Homo sapiens: one gene and its partners. The protein of the gene in region 1 purifies or fractionates together with the protein of each later gene. This does not show direct contact. Each region holds a gene or a part of one and is shown in the gene's direction. Other genes may lie near its edges.

Region 1 (3,500 bases):
TTAGGATCATGTCTTTCAAAAAATGCATTTGGGGATGTTTACACTGCTATTTATGGGACCAGTTGCTAATTCAGTAATTTCTTTATGGTTCTGTAACTACAGATTGATTCACAGCATATGGGCTGATATTCTTAATGTGTACGAAAAAGCCATGTTGAGATGGGAATTATTTAAAAATTTTTTTTCTCCCCATTGAATTTTCTCTTTAGATATGTCAGTTGAAGAAATTTTCTTGGTTATTTCTAATTTTTGAATATATTTGATTAATAACCTATTTTATTATAACTGTTAGAGTAAACATAATAATTTGAAAGTTGTCTCTTATCATTTTCTTTAGCATGTTACACCAGACAGCTATATTCCATGCCTTGCAGACCTGTGCAAAGCACTATGGGAAGTTATGCTCAGCTATTATAGGACTATGGAATGGCATGAAAAGCATGACAATGAGGATACTGCTTCAGCTTCTGGTAGGAAAATATTTTTATTTTATTTTAAAAATTGAACTATAAATATCCCACATTACTGGAGTAAGAAGAAAGGAAAGGGGCAGGAATGCCTTTGGGATTTCAAAGATTACAGTGACCATAGGCTAAATATTGAGCAAAGAAAGTGATTCAGCTACTTCAAATGTTCTATTACCTTTAGAGAGTAACTGGGCCAAAGGACTTTTTAAGTGGCACATAGTACTAGTTTCCAGAAGTGTGTGCTGATGGCTTTAGGACTGAATTTATAAATTTTTGTTGTTGTTAATATTATTAGTTGCAAACTAGATAAGACATTGGTCTGTCTAAGTTTACTGTGAAATTAATGCTAGATGGTCAATATTAATCTATTTAGCCAATTTTCAAGTTACAGTAATAAAGCTAGGTTCTAAGAATTAATTATATTGATACTTTCCTTCCTGAAAATGAAGCAAGACTAGAATTTCATTTTCAAAATGATGTTTTAAAATATTCATCTTTGAATGGAAAATATAACTTTAAATGACTGTGGTACAGTCAGCTAAATAATAAAGAATACGTCTTTGAAAAATTATTGTATTTATTAATCATTCTATTTAAATTGCTTCATTTGTATAATTATATATCTTAACTGATTATCCTTGAACAGTAGCTGAGATTGAATATTCAGAATACTTATAAAAACAGTAAATGATTTTATCAGCATTTTGTTTAATATGGATAAAATAAATTATACTGCACATCTTTTTTTTTGTATTATATACAATTTATTGTAGCTATTCAATCAAGTTACTTTAATAAACTTCCAGTTTCTGAGGGGCTTATTTTCTGTTGTTGGGTGAGTGGACAACACACCCAAATCTCACTGTTTGATTAAATGTTTTGGTAGTTTAGAAGGCATAGGTTTAATCTTTGTCTTGACTTACAAGAAGCTTGTAAATATAGAAAACAAAATAAGAGGAAAATTCCATGAATGGATTTTTATCCATTTGGAAATATTGTTGGGGAGAGTAAAGGAAGGGAGAGAAAGGCAGAGAGAAGGTTGGGCACACAGCCAGGATTCCAGGTCAGACTACTTTTACCCAAAACTTATACTTTTACCCTGTACTACCCCTGGGACCATGAGCTCTGCGATCTGAGAGGCCTGGCTTCAAGTTTTCACTTCTATTTACCAAAGGTGAGAACTTGAAGACACTGCTTATTTTTCCCATTCTTCAGTTTGCTCCTAAAATTGGTCAGTTAAAAAGCAAAGCAAAACCAAACCAAACCCTTAGAGTAGTAACGCATCTACCCTGCAGGGTTGTTGTAAAGTTTGGACAGCATGTAAGGTACTTATATTGGTGGTGGTTAATATGATGAAATGAAATGGATCAAGAGATAATATAATAATAGTGAAATACCTGGAGACTGTTAAGACATATTTGCTTTTCTAGTACATTATTTAAGGAGAAACCAAAGAAAACGTTTGGAATAGAATTAACACATATTTTAGATATCAGAATTTAGGTGACAGTTATGTATATATTCATCATGGTAAAGCTTGCTTTTTGCTTTAGGCCAATAGTTTACATTCGTTGGAATACTGAGTCAAAGTGAAAACTCTATCTGATCCTTATTACTCAACCCTCTTTGCCTAATCTGTATATTTTATGGATATTCAAGTGCTCAAGCTGTCAGCTGATAGTATCTAGGACTATAAAAAGTTACTTGTTCACCTGAAATTAATCCTTTTATATTCAGGAATAAAATTGTAGAAATTAGTAAATTGAAAATTACTTTTCATGGAACTTCATAAAACTGAAGAGGACTCTAGACTTTATCTGCTGTATCTCTTTAGTGATAATATTTGATACTGTTTGGTAACCTAATACTTTAACGTTCTAAGGTAAAGCTCTAAAGCTATAGTTCAGGTGCACTGCCTTAGGCTGCTGGATCCCTAACAGCCATACCATGGGTGTAATAATAAGGCTTACGTTTTAGGAGTGCTCAGAGGCAAACTTGTCATGCATCTGTGTATCTGAGGCCTGGCATTTCCAAGGACCTTTTACTGGTTATCAGTGGATAACTTCCCAACCTAAGACAAGATGATAACATACTCACTTAGTTGTTCTTCACAGGATATTCACACAAAAGTTTCATCTTTTTAATATAAATGTGTATGTGTCTTTTTCAGTTGTCTTTAGGGCGGAGATTGGAGGCAGATCACTGATCTTATCTATTAAACTAGACATTGTTAAATTATTTATCTGGAGTGGATAAAACTATTATTTATCATGAAAAATATAAAATATATGCATTATCACCTCACGCCTGAGTTTTAATGTAGACTATCCTCTTAGCACGCATATTAATTGATAATTCAGTTAATTGGTCCTGTAATGCCCTTCTCACAGCCTTTTACATGGTCTTGCAGTAGGCAGTATTGAGAACCTGGTCTCTGGGACCACACTGACTCAGGTAGAATCCCAACTCAGTCACATATGATCTCAGTGGTCTTAGGTATATTTAGCATTTCATAGTCTACGTTTATTTGTCTCACCAAATGGGTTTAAGTCTAATACCTATTGTTTGATATTGTTTTGATTGTATAAATATCAAACATATTTACTGTATCTTACATAGACTTACAATGTGTGAGAGGCCAAATAGAAATTATTTGGAAAACAAACACAAATTGGATTAAATCTAAAAATATATATTGTCTTTTATTTTCAGAAGGGAGTAATATGATAGGTACTGAAGAAACTAATTTTGATCGTGGCTACATAAAAAAGAAATTAGAACATGGACTTACACGAATATGGCAGGTTTGGTTTTTTTAAAATTATTTTTTTCACAGAAGCAATAGAAATGTCATGTCATAGTTTTAGAAATTCAGTTTTAAGTTTTCTATATATGTATTCTTTGCAGATTTAATCATATGTTTCTGTTTGGAATTAGGCTATCATTTAATTTCTGTAATGTATTTGGACTATAAGTGGCAGGAAAAAAGTTTTTTAATTTGAAAATCTCCACTGGAAATATTCATACATGTCT
Region 2 (2,608 bases), on another chromosome or scaffold:
GTGGCTGAGCATCCTGGGCCAGCCCTGGTGGGTCTGAGGGGTCTGTTGAGATACACAGGGCTCCCAGCTCTGTGTGTGTCAGAGCCCCACTTCGTTCCAGGCTTTGCTCCCAAGCTCTCCCACCCTCGGAGCTGAGCCTGCCAGGCCCCAGGCGGTGCTGGTGGAGAGCGGGCCCGTGTCATACCACGCCGACGAGGAGGCTGACGAGGAGGAGCCTGACGAGGAGGACGGGGAGCCCTGCGTCAGTGCCCTGCAGATGATGGGCAGCAACGGTGGGTGGGGCCCGACAACAGGGAGGGGTTCAAGGGAAATAAAGGCATCAGCTACTGCCCCTCATGATCCCTGAACTTGGGCCTGTTAGCTTCAAACTAAATTTCTGTTTCTCCCTGGAAAGAAATTTGAACTAAGACATTTTGTAAATTGGTCATGTCGATTGTGAGGTTGGAGGCAGCCAGGGTCAGAGAGGCTAGGGACGGTGAGGTACCCACCACGAGGGCCGCCCAGCCAGCAGCACGAGGTTCCCGGATCTGCACACCACCACGGACCTGCACACCCAGGGAGGGAGGCTGAGGGAGCCCACACTGCTCTCAGGTGCCCTCGACGAGGAGCAAGGCCCTGCTCTGGGTGCATGCCAGTCCCGGGAGGTGGAGAGGAGCCCAAGATGGCTCCTGGCGGGGCGCGGGGGGCTGGGGCTGGGGCTGGAGCCTGAGTCTTCTAGGGGGGCACCAGGAACAGGGCGGGTTGGGGGGTCTGGGCTCCTGGGTCCCACAGAGACCCTGGGCTTCATGACTGTGCTCTTCTGCAGACTATGGCTGTGATGGCGATGAGGACGACGGCTACTGAAGTGTGGCCTCCAGGCAGGTGATGTCCTGGCAGGGGGCCTCGCGGGTCTCCTCAGCATCAGACGGGCTTCCAGGACCGCAGCAGGCAGGCCCCAGCGCCGAGACTCCTGGTGACAGGTGGCACCTGTCCCACAGCCCTCGTCCCATGTGGAACTTACCATTGGGATTGTGTTTCTATTCAGCAAGGGAAACCGGACCAAGCGTCTGCATGTGTGTGATCAGATGTGGGCCGGGTGTGTGCAGGGCTGGGTCCCGCTGCCTGCCGTCGACTCATCCAAGGACCCTCCAAGGCTGGCAGTGTGGTGTTGCTACTATTAAGGAAACAGGCTTGGGGCAGCCCCACTGCTGGTCCAAGTGTGTGGAGGGCTGAGTGTGCTGGCCCTGTGACTCAGGACCAGCTCTGGAGTCTCCAGCCCACCCTCCGCACCGTCCCCTCCTGAGCAGCACTCGGCGCCAGCAGCCTCTGCCAGAGTGGAAGCCAGAGCCCTGCAGGTGTCCGGCGCAGCCGTGGGAGCTGAGGATCTGGCACTTGAGAGGCAGCAGCTCCTTGAAGGTCCTCTGCCTCCAGCTGTGGCCCTGCATCCAGATACCTGCCTCGTCCGAGGCAGACACCCCCACCCCTGCCTCCTCCAGACCCCCCTCCCCGCTGCCTGCACCGCCTGGAGCAGCATGGGGGTCAGACCCCTGCTCCAGGGCCACTTGAGTTGTGGGCCCAGGAGCCCTGCGGCTGCCGGCAGGTGAACTGAGTGCCCGACAGCTGAGACCGGCGCCCACCCGTCCTGAGCATAGCTCTGTAGGCAGTGCGGGCATAGCCTGCATAGTGTCCTGGCGCTGGGAGTTCCCCGTGGACAGAGCCAGAGGGCAGTGGCGCTCCCTGTCAGAGCTGGATCAGGCCCCCCATCGAGGAGGGAGGGCAGACGGAGGCCCGAGAGCCTCCCCAGGCCTCTTCGTGGGAAGGCCCCAGTACCACTCGTAGGAGGTCTCAGCTCTGGCATGGCTGCCCCGGATGTGGCCGAGGGGGCTTCACCCTGTGTCCTTAGGAGGGGGTGGCCTTGAGGCAGAGCCGTGCCTCACTGACCCCCAGGGGCCTCATCCTCCCCATGGAATGGGCTGTATGTCCTGCCCCAACTTGGCCCGCAGCAGGCCAGACCCCCCTACCCCCGCCCAGAGCTCAGTAGCCAGCCTGGGTCCTGCCAGGGCTTCTCGAGGGCTTGGGGGAAGAATAGATTTAGTAAAGCAGGAAGATCTGTTGTTACTTAACAGAAATTGCCTGAGGCTTGTCTGATTCTGTGTTGCGATCTGTGGCCAGCCGTCATGTCGGTCTGCTGGCTGCACGGCCTGGCTGTGGATATTAGCCCCTGAGACCCAGGGGCTGCCCTGAGTGAGGGGTGTGGGGTCTTTAGGTCCCCCCAACTACTGCAGCAGCTGTTGAGTGGGTGTGCATCAGCCTGGGCTGGACATGGGTGTGCCACAGGGGACCGGGTGGACAAGTCCCCGCTTGGGCCCCCAGCGCAGTGTGGGCACCGGGAGGTGAGTGCTGTGAAGAAAGTGAAACGGCAGGACCAGCCCACAGGGGCTTCACTGAGGCTGGGGTAACAGGAAGCAGCAACTGGGCCAGGGTGGGCGGGCCTGGGGGCCACAGCTGGCACCCAGGGGCCCCGAGGGAGGTGCAGGTGGGCCGTGGGACCGCAGGATGGGGGGCTTGGAGAAGGTGCTCTTAGAGGAACCCTGAGGACCAGCTGGAGGGGCTCCCGGCCTAGCAGATG
Region 3 (3,500 bases), on another chromosome or scaffold:
GTTGTGTAGAATAGAGTAAAAACTGACCCAACACAGAACTTGGCCTGGGCCAGCTACTACTAACCCACGACATGAAAGCTTTATTGACAGTCGGAAGGCAGCCCATTTGCCCTACCAAACCTTCATAGAAAAAGTAAACATAAGGAAACCTACCAAACATTTCAAACATTCCTAAGTGTCAGCCCTATTAACTTTGATGTTCGTTTGGTTATTACTACAAATCCCCACGTTTATTTCTTTTCAAGAGAAAGTTGTTCGAAATGTGAACGTTTTCCATCTTTACCTGACTGGCCAGGAGTAATCTTATAAAAATTTGAAATTTACTCAAAAATTATAAAAAAAAAAGTTTTTGTAGAAGGTACTTTTTATGTTAAGAATGCTTTGTTAATGGAACGCTGGAAGATTTTCCATACAGCCTTGTCTTATAAATGTTTGTGAGTTCGAATTTTATAATATTAGAAAAGCAACCATGTTAAATAAGCTTGATATCATGAACAGAAGGACAGGAATTAGGAAAGTTTTGCTGTTTTGCTTCCTTCTGTTTCTGAGGATAGACTCGATAAAGGAGTTTGCATGATTCTCGTTATAGGCAAAAGGAAAAGAATTGGGGAACATATGTAATTTTTTTTCCTGCTGTTCATTTCTGTTTGTTTTTTAAAGGCTTGCTGGCCTCATTCATTTCCCAAGCTCCGTGAAAACATAGTTTTGTATTTAGGTCAATCAATTGCCTAGAAGTAATCCTGATGTCATTGGTGTAACCTAAGAAGTTGGCTAGAAGAGAATCTAGGGGTGGGAAGAGTACCAGGAACTTTCATAAATTGGGAGCTTTTCATGTCCACCTGCACAATGGAAACGCATTTCAGTTATATCTTTAGAGAGGGGGAATAGTAAGGAGAAATACCAAAAAAATTATCATCTAAGTTTTAGCCAGGTTATACATACTCAGTTTCAAGAGACTATCACTATTTCACCTGATATTGTGAGAGGAGGAGGAAAACTCTAATCCAATGTGTGTCCCATATTGTGTGTCTGGAAACCTGGCTGAGTTCTAGTCAATGGGGCATTGTATTCTAAATAACAAACTTCCTTGAAAATAATGAGCCCTGAAAACATTCTACTGATATTTTTCAGTGCACCTCTGTTGAAAAACAGGACTCTTAAGTAATTGCTTTATTTAACCATTTGGGTTTATGTCTTTAATCACTTAAATGAGAAGCTTGGTCACCAAGGCAATTTGGTGAAGTAAAAGATGTAAATAAATTACAAACAGCTTTTATCCCCCAAGGCTTATACAATAAAATGGTTTTTCTAAACCATTTTGTTAACTTGTTGAGTTCAGGCCCTTTGAAATTGCTTCTGTAGAGTGTCTAAATGCATACCATTTTCAGTTTTTCAGGTGAAACATCTATTGCAAAACTGTTTCTTCTCTTTAAAGACCTAATGTAATGCATTTTTAGCTAGTTGTAAAAGTTACTGTTAAAAATGTTATGTGTAAAATAACCCCCACCCCATCTCCTCCTATTTAATAATCTTACTTTTTTTTGGGCTATTACAACTTTTGATATAAGTACTAACTCATTGATGTGTTATAAAGAATACAGGACTTAATTCATTGCTAAGTACTTGGTAGAATTCATCGTGAGTCATAATGAGAGGGCTGAAAAAAGTAACTTTAGCTCAGAGAACTGTAAATTATGAGAAACGGCATGAAAGAATATCTCTGACAAATATTTAACTTTCAAATCTAATGGAAGAATTGTGTCTGTTATAGTTAAATTTTCCATTTGAGTTTCTTTTTACCATTGCTTATAAGCAGACTCATATTTGTCAGCTTATACTCTCATTATATTTTAGCCCATTTTGGGGCTCTAGTAATATTTGTTTCTTAAATAGTTTTTGTTCATAGAATACAACTAAACTATCTGTATGCCATTTAAAAAGCATGTCTCATAAAGAAATGATTGGCCACAAGCAGTTAGATTTCATAACAATGACATTTGAATTTCTTGGTACAGAAATACATTTATAACTGAAATATTAGCTTCAAACTCTATTGGTATGTGACTTTGAACAAATGAGGAATTAAATTTATGATAAAAATATTAACATTCCTTGCAATATTGATAGAACCTTAGTCGCCTTCAAATAACCCTTTAAACATTTAGTAATTAACAGTTCCATAATTAGCTTTGCATATCTTGGCTAAGGTTCAAAATGAAAATCTCTCCAACTGCAGTGCTTTATGCAGATACTCGTTTAATGCAGTCGCAGTCATTCCCAAATGCTGGAATTTCACAGAACTTTCTTTTTTTTTTTTTTTTTTTTTTTAAGGAGAAGATGACCACCTTGGTTTTTCTCTCAAGAAGGAACATAAAATAAAAACAAAACTAGTTATAACTTCTTATCACTATCATTTAATCTCACTGTTTTTAAGAAAGGAAGGATGCAGTGTTATTCTAAAGCTCAGTTTTGAAAGAAAATATTGTTTGCGTCATAAGAAAATTCACTGCATTTTTTCATTTAAATTTTACTTTGGACCTGAAAAAAACTTATTTGGGTAGATTTTGGATGATTTAAAGAATCACAATAAGGTCTTTCTTTGGTGATATTTGATGAGATGGGGTGCTTTCAGGATGGTATGGCGATAGACAATGTTTGGTAAGAGAGCGAGATATATATATTTGGAATAGGGTCTTGCTTTGTTGCCCGGGCTCACTGCAGCCTCTATCTCCCAGACTCAAATGATCCTCCTGCGTCAGCCTCGAGTAACTGGGTCTACAGGCTTATGTCACTGTGCCTGGCTAATTTAAAAAATTTTTTGTAGAGATGAGGGTCTCGCTTTGTTGCCTAGACTGGTCATGAAGTCCTGGGCAGAAGTGATCCTCCTGCTTCAGCCTCCCAAAGTGCTGGGATTACAGGTGTGAACCACTGCACCTGGTCCATTGGTGATAATTTGAAATTCAAGTTGCATAAAATTATAATGGGATGCGCCTCAGATATAAATGGACTATCCGAAATAATGATATGATAACCTTCTAGAAATAAAAACTCTGATTTTGCTTGATTCATATGAAAACTTAATGAGAAAAAAAGTATTCCTTCTTTGTAAATTTTATATGGAAGTAACTTTGGCCAGGAGTGGTGACACATACCTGTAATCCCAGCACTTTGGGAGGCTGAGGTGGGAGGATCTCTTGAAGCCCAGGTGTTCAAGACCAGCCTGGGCATCATAGCAAGGCCCCGTTTCTATTTAAAAGAAAGGTAAATTTGATTTAGACTTAGGAGATATGGAAACCACTGAAAATCGTTGGTCCTTGATAATCCGTATTTTATGGGGTATTCCTTCTCTTCACTCCATTTTTGGTAACAATTTCCTCGTCGGTAAAATGGATAATAGCTGTCTGAGGTTTTGTGGATTAAGTGAAAGTACATTATTTAGTGTAATGCCTAATGTTAGTCCTCTTTATAGCATATTTTATACAATTTCTATTATTTAACAG
Region 4 (2,457 bases), on another chromosome or scaffold:
TAACCTGAAAAAACATTAGAGTAAAAATCATTGAAATTGAAAAGAGAAAATCGATAAAACCCAAAACTGGTTCCTTGAAAAGGTCAGTAAAATTGATAAACCTCTAGCTAGCTTAAGAACAAACAGAAGACAAATATTGCTAATACCAAAAATGAAAGAGGCCATCACAGCTAATCCTATGGTCACCAAAAGGATTAGAAAGAAACATGGACAACTCTGTCCATAAATTTGATAACTTAGCTAAAATGGACCAATTCCTTGCAAGACGCATTCTCTCAAAGCTCACACAAGATAGACCTCAATAGGCATATGTATCTATTAAATAAACCAAAGCAGTAATTAATAACCTTCCAAGGCCAGGTACAGTGGTTCATGCCTGTAATCCCAGCACTTCACTTTGGGAGGCTGAGGCGGGTGGATCACAAGGTCAGGAGTTCGAGACCAGCCTGGTCAACATGGTGAAACCCCCTATCTACTAAAAATACAAAAAATTAGCTGGGCATGGTGGCATGCGTGTGTAGTCGAAGCTACTCAGGAGGCTGAGGCAGAAGAATCACTTGAACCTGGGAGGTGGATGTTGCAGTGAGCTGAGATTGTGCCACTGTACTGCAGCCTGGGTGACAGAATGAGACTGCATCTCAAAAAATAATAATGAAACTTTCCAAAACAAAGTGCCAGGACCAGCTGGGTTCACTGATGTGTTTTTGAGATACTTAAGGTAGAAATGATACCAAGTCTCTACCATCTCTTTCAGAAAATAAAAGCAGAGATAACACTTCCCAACTCATTTTGTGAGGCCAGTATTACCCTAATAGCAAAACCAGGCAAAGATATTACAAGAAAGGAAAACTACAGATCAATATTTCCATTGAACACAGATGCAGAAATCCTCAAAATATTAGCAAATCAGGAATGCAAGGCTTGTTCAACATTTGATATTCAGTGTAATCCATTGCATGCATTAGCAGCTCAAAGATGAAATACGATCATATCAATAGGTACAGAAAAAGCATTTGACAAAATCCAATATCCATTCATGTTAAAACCTCTCAACACAGAAGGAATACAGGAGAACTTACTCAAGTTGGTAAAGAACATACTACAAAAAACCCTACAGCTAACATTATCCTTGATGTTTCCAACTAGACACTTTCCTACTAAGATCAGGAACATGGCAAGGAACACCACACCACTGCTTTTCAGCATTGTACTGGAAGTGCTATATAATGCAGTGTTAAAAAAAAAAGAAATAAAATGCACATAGATTTGAAAGGATGAAATACAACTTTGTTCACAAGTAACATGATTGTCTTTGTAGAGAATTCTAAATAACAAAAACCCTGCTGACATTAATAAGCAATTACAGCAGGATTGCAGGATACAGTCCTCAGGTAGATGATAAAAAGGAATTGGACATCAAGTCATTAAAAGACACGGAGAAACCCTAAATGCTTATTGTTAAGTGAAAACCAATCTGAAAAGGCTTTCTATTTTGTATGATTGCAATTATATGACATTTTGGGAGAGGCAAAACTATTGAGCCAGTGAAAGGACCAGTGGTTGCTGAGAGTTGAGGGGAAAGGAGGGATGGCAGGTAGAGAGGTGATTTTTAAGGCAGTGAAAGTACTCTCTAGGGTACTGTAATTTGTCAAAACGCAGAGAATGGAAAACAGTGAACGGAAAACACAGAGTAAACCCTAATGTCAACTCTGGACTTCAGTTAATAATAATGTATCACTGTTGGCTCATTAATTGTAACAAATGAACCATAATGATGCAAGATGTTAATGATTGGGGAGCCTGTGGAAGATGGGAGGGGAAAGGGTTATATGAGAATTCTCTATACTTTTTGCTCAACTTTCTGTAACCCTAAAGCTACTCTAAAAAATGAAGTGTATCAAGTAAATAAATAACCAACCAACCAACCCTGAGGAACATCTTGTTTCTGTACTAAGGTGTTCTTTTGTTAGTTGTATGTTTCTGACTGAACATGTAAATCATCATTAGTGAACAATTGAATTGCTTTTGTACATCCTTAATATATTTTAAATTATGGTAACTGTGACCTGAAATTAAGGACTAGTATTTTTGGTTCTCTTGACATCTGAAGCCAATAGGGCCTCAAATGACCTAACCTCATTTCCATCCCCACTCTGCTTCCACAGGTGAGGTAACTTAGCAGACAGTCCTCCTTGTCAGGGGGGCCAGGCACAATTCCTGCTTATTCCTAAGTAGTAAGATTTGCTTCCCTGCCAGCTCTTGGAATTATCACCAAACCCCTCACATCCTCCCACAGCAAACAGTGGTCACTGTACTCTGGATAATACAGCTGCTCGCCACAACCCCTCCTTTTCCACTCTGCTCCCTAGTCGAACCCTGTGTGGCTCTTCCCAGCATGTGGTGTCCTTCTCACCTTTCTGAGAGTTGGTGTGACTGACAAACTCACCTAGATCTTAT

The links. Proteins that work in one complex are often made in the same cells at the same time.
Region 2: the proteins of VPS50 (region 1) and BRF1 purify together in Homo sapiens (affinity purification with mass spectrometry; one large-scale study listed by BioGRID and IntAct). This does not show direct contact.
Region 3: the proteins of VPS50 (region 1) and RAPGEF2 purify together in Homo sapiens (affinity purification with mass spectrometry; one large-scale study listed by BioGRID and IntAct). This does not show direct contact.
Region 4: the proteins of VPS50 (region 1) and ZNF33A purify together in Homo sapiens (affinity purification with mass spectrometry; one large-scale study listed by BioGRID and IntAct). This does not show direct contact.

What each region holds. Positions count from the first base shown.
Region 1 is NC_000007.14:93,291,366-93,294,865, forward strand, and holds part of VPS50 (syndetin), read left to right. Parts: intron 1-337; coding exon 338-470; intron 471-3,179; coding exon 3,180-3,271; intron 3,272-3,500.
Region 2 is NC_000014.9:105,208,786-105,211,393, reverse strand, and holds the end of BRF1 (transcription factor IIIB 90 kDa subunit), read left to right. Parts: intron 1-100; coding exon 101-272; intron 273-805; coding exon 806-843; 3' UTR 844-2,108; downstream 2,109-2,608.
Region 3 is NC_000004.12:159,106,079-159,109,578, forward strand, and holds part of RAPGEF2 (rap guanine nucleotide exchange factor 2), read left to right. Parts: intron 1-3,500. UniProt on the Homo sapiens protein: Functions as a guanine nucleotide exchange factor (GEF), which activates Rap and Ras family of small GTPases by exchanging bound GDP for free GTP in a cAMP-dependent manner.
Region 4 is NC_000010.11:38,058,131-38,060,587, forward strand, and holds the end of ZNF33A (zinc finger protein 33A), read left to right. Parts: 3' UTR 1-1,957; downstream 1,958-2,457. UniProt on the Homo sapiens protein: May be involved in transcriptional regulation.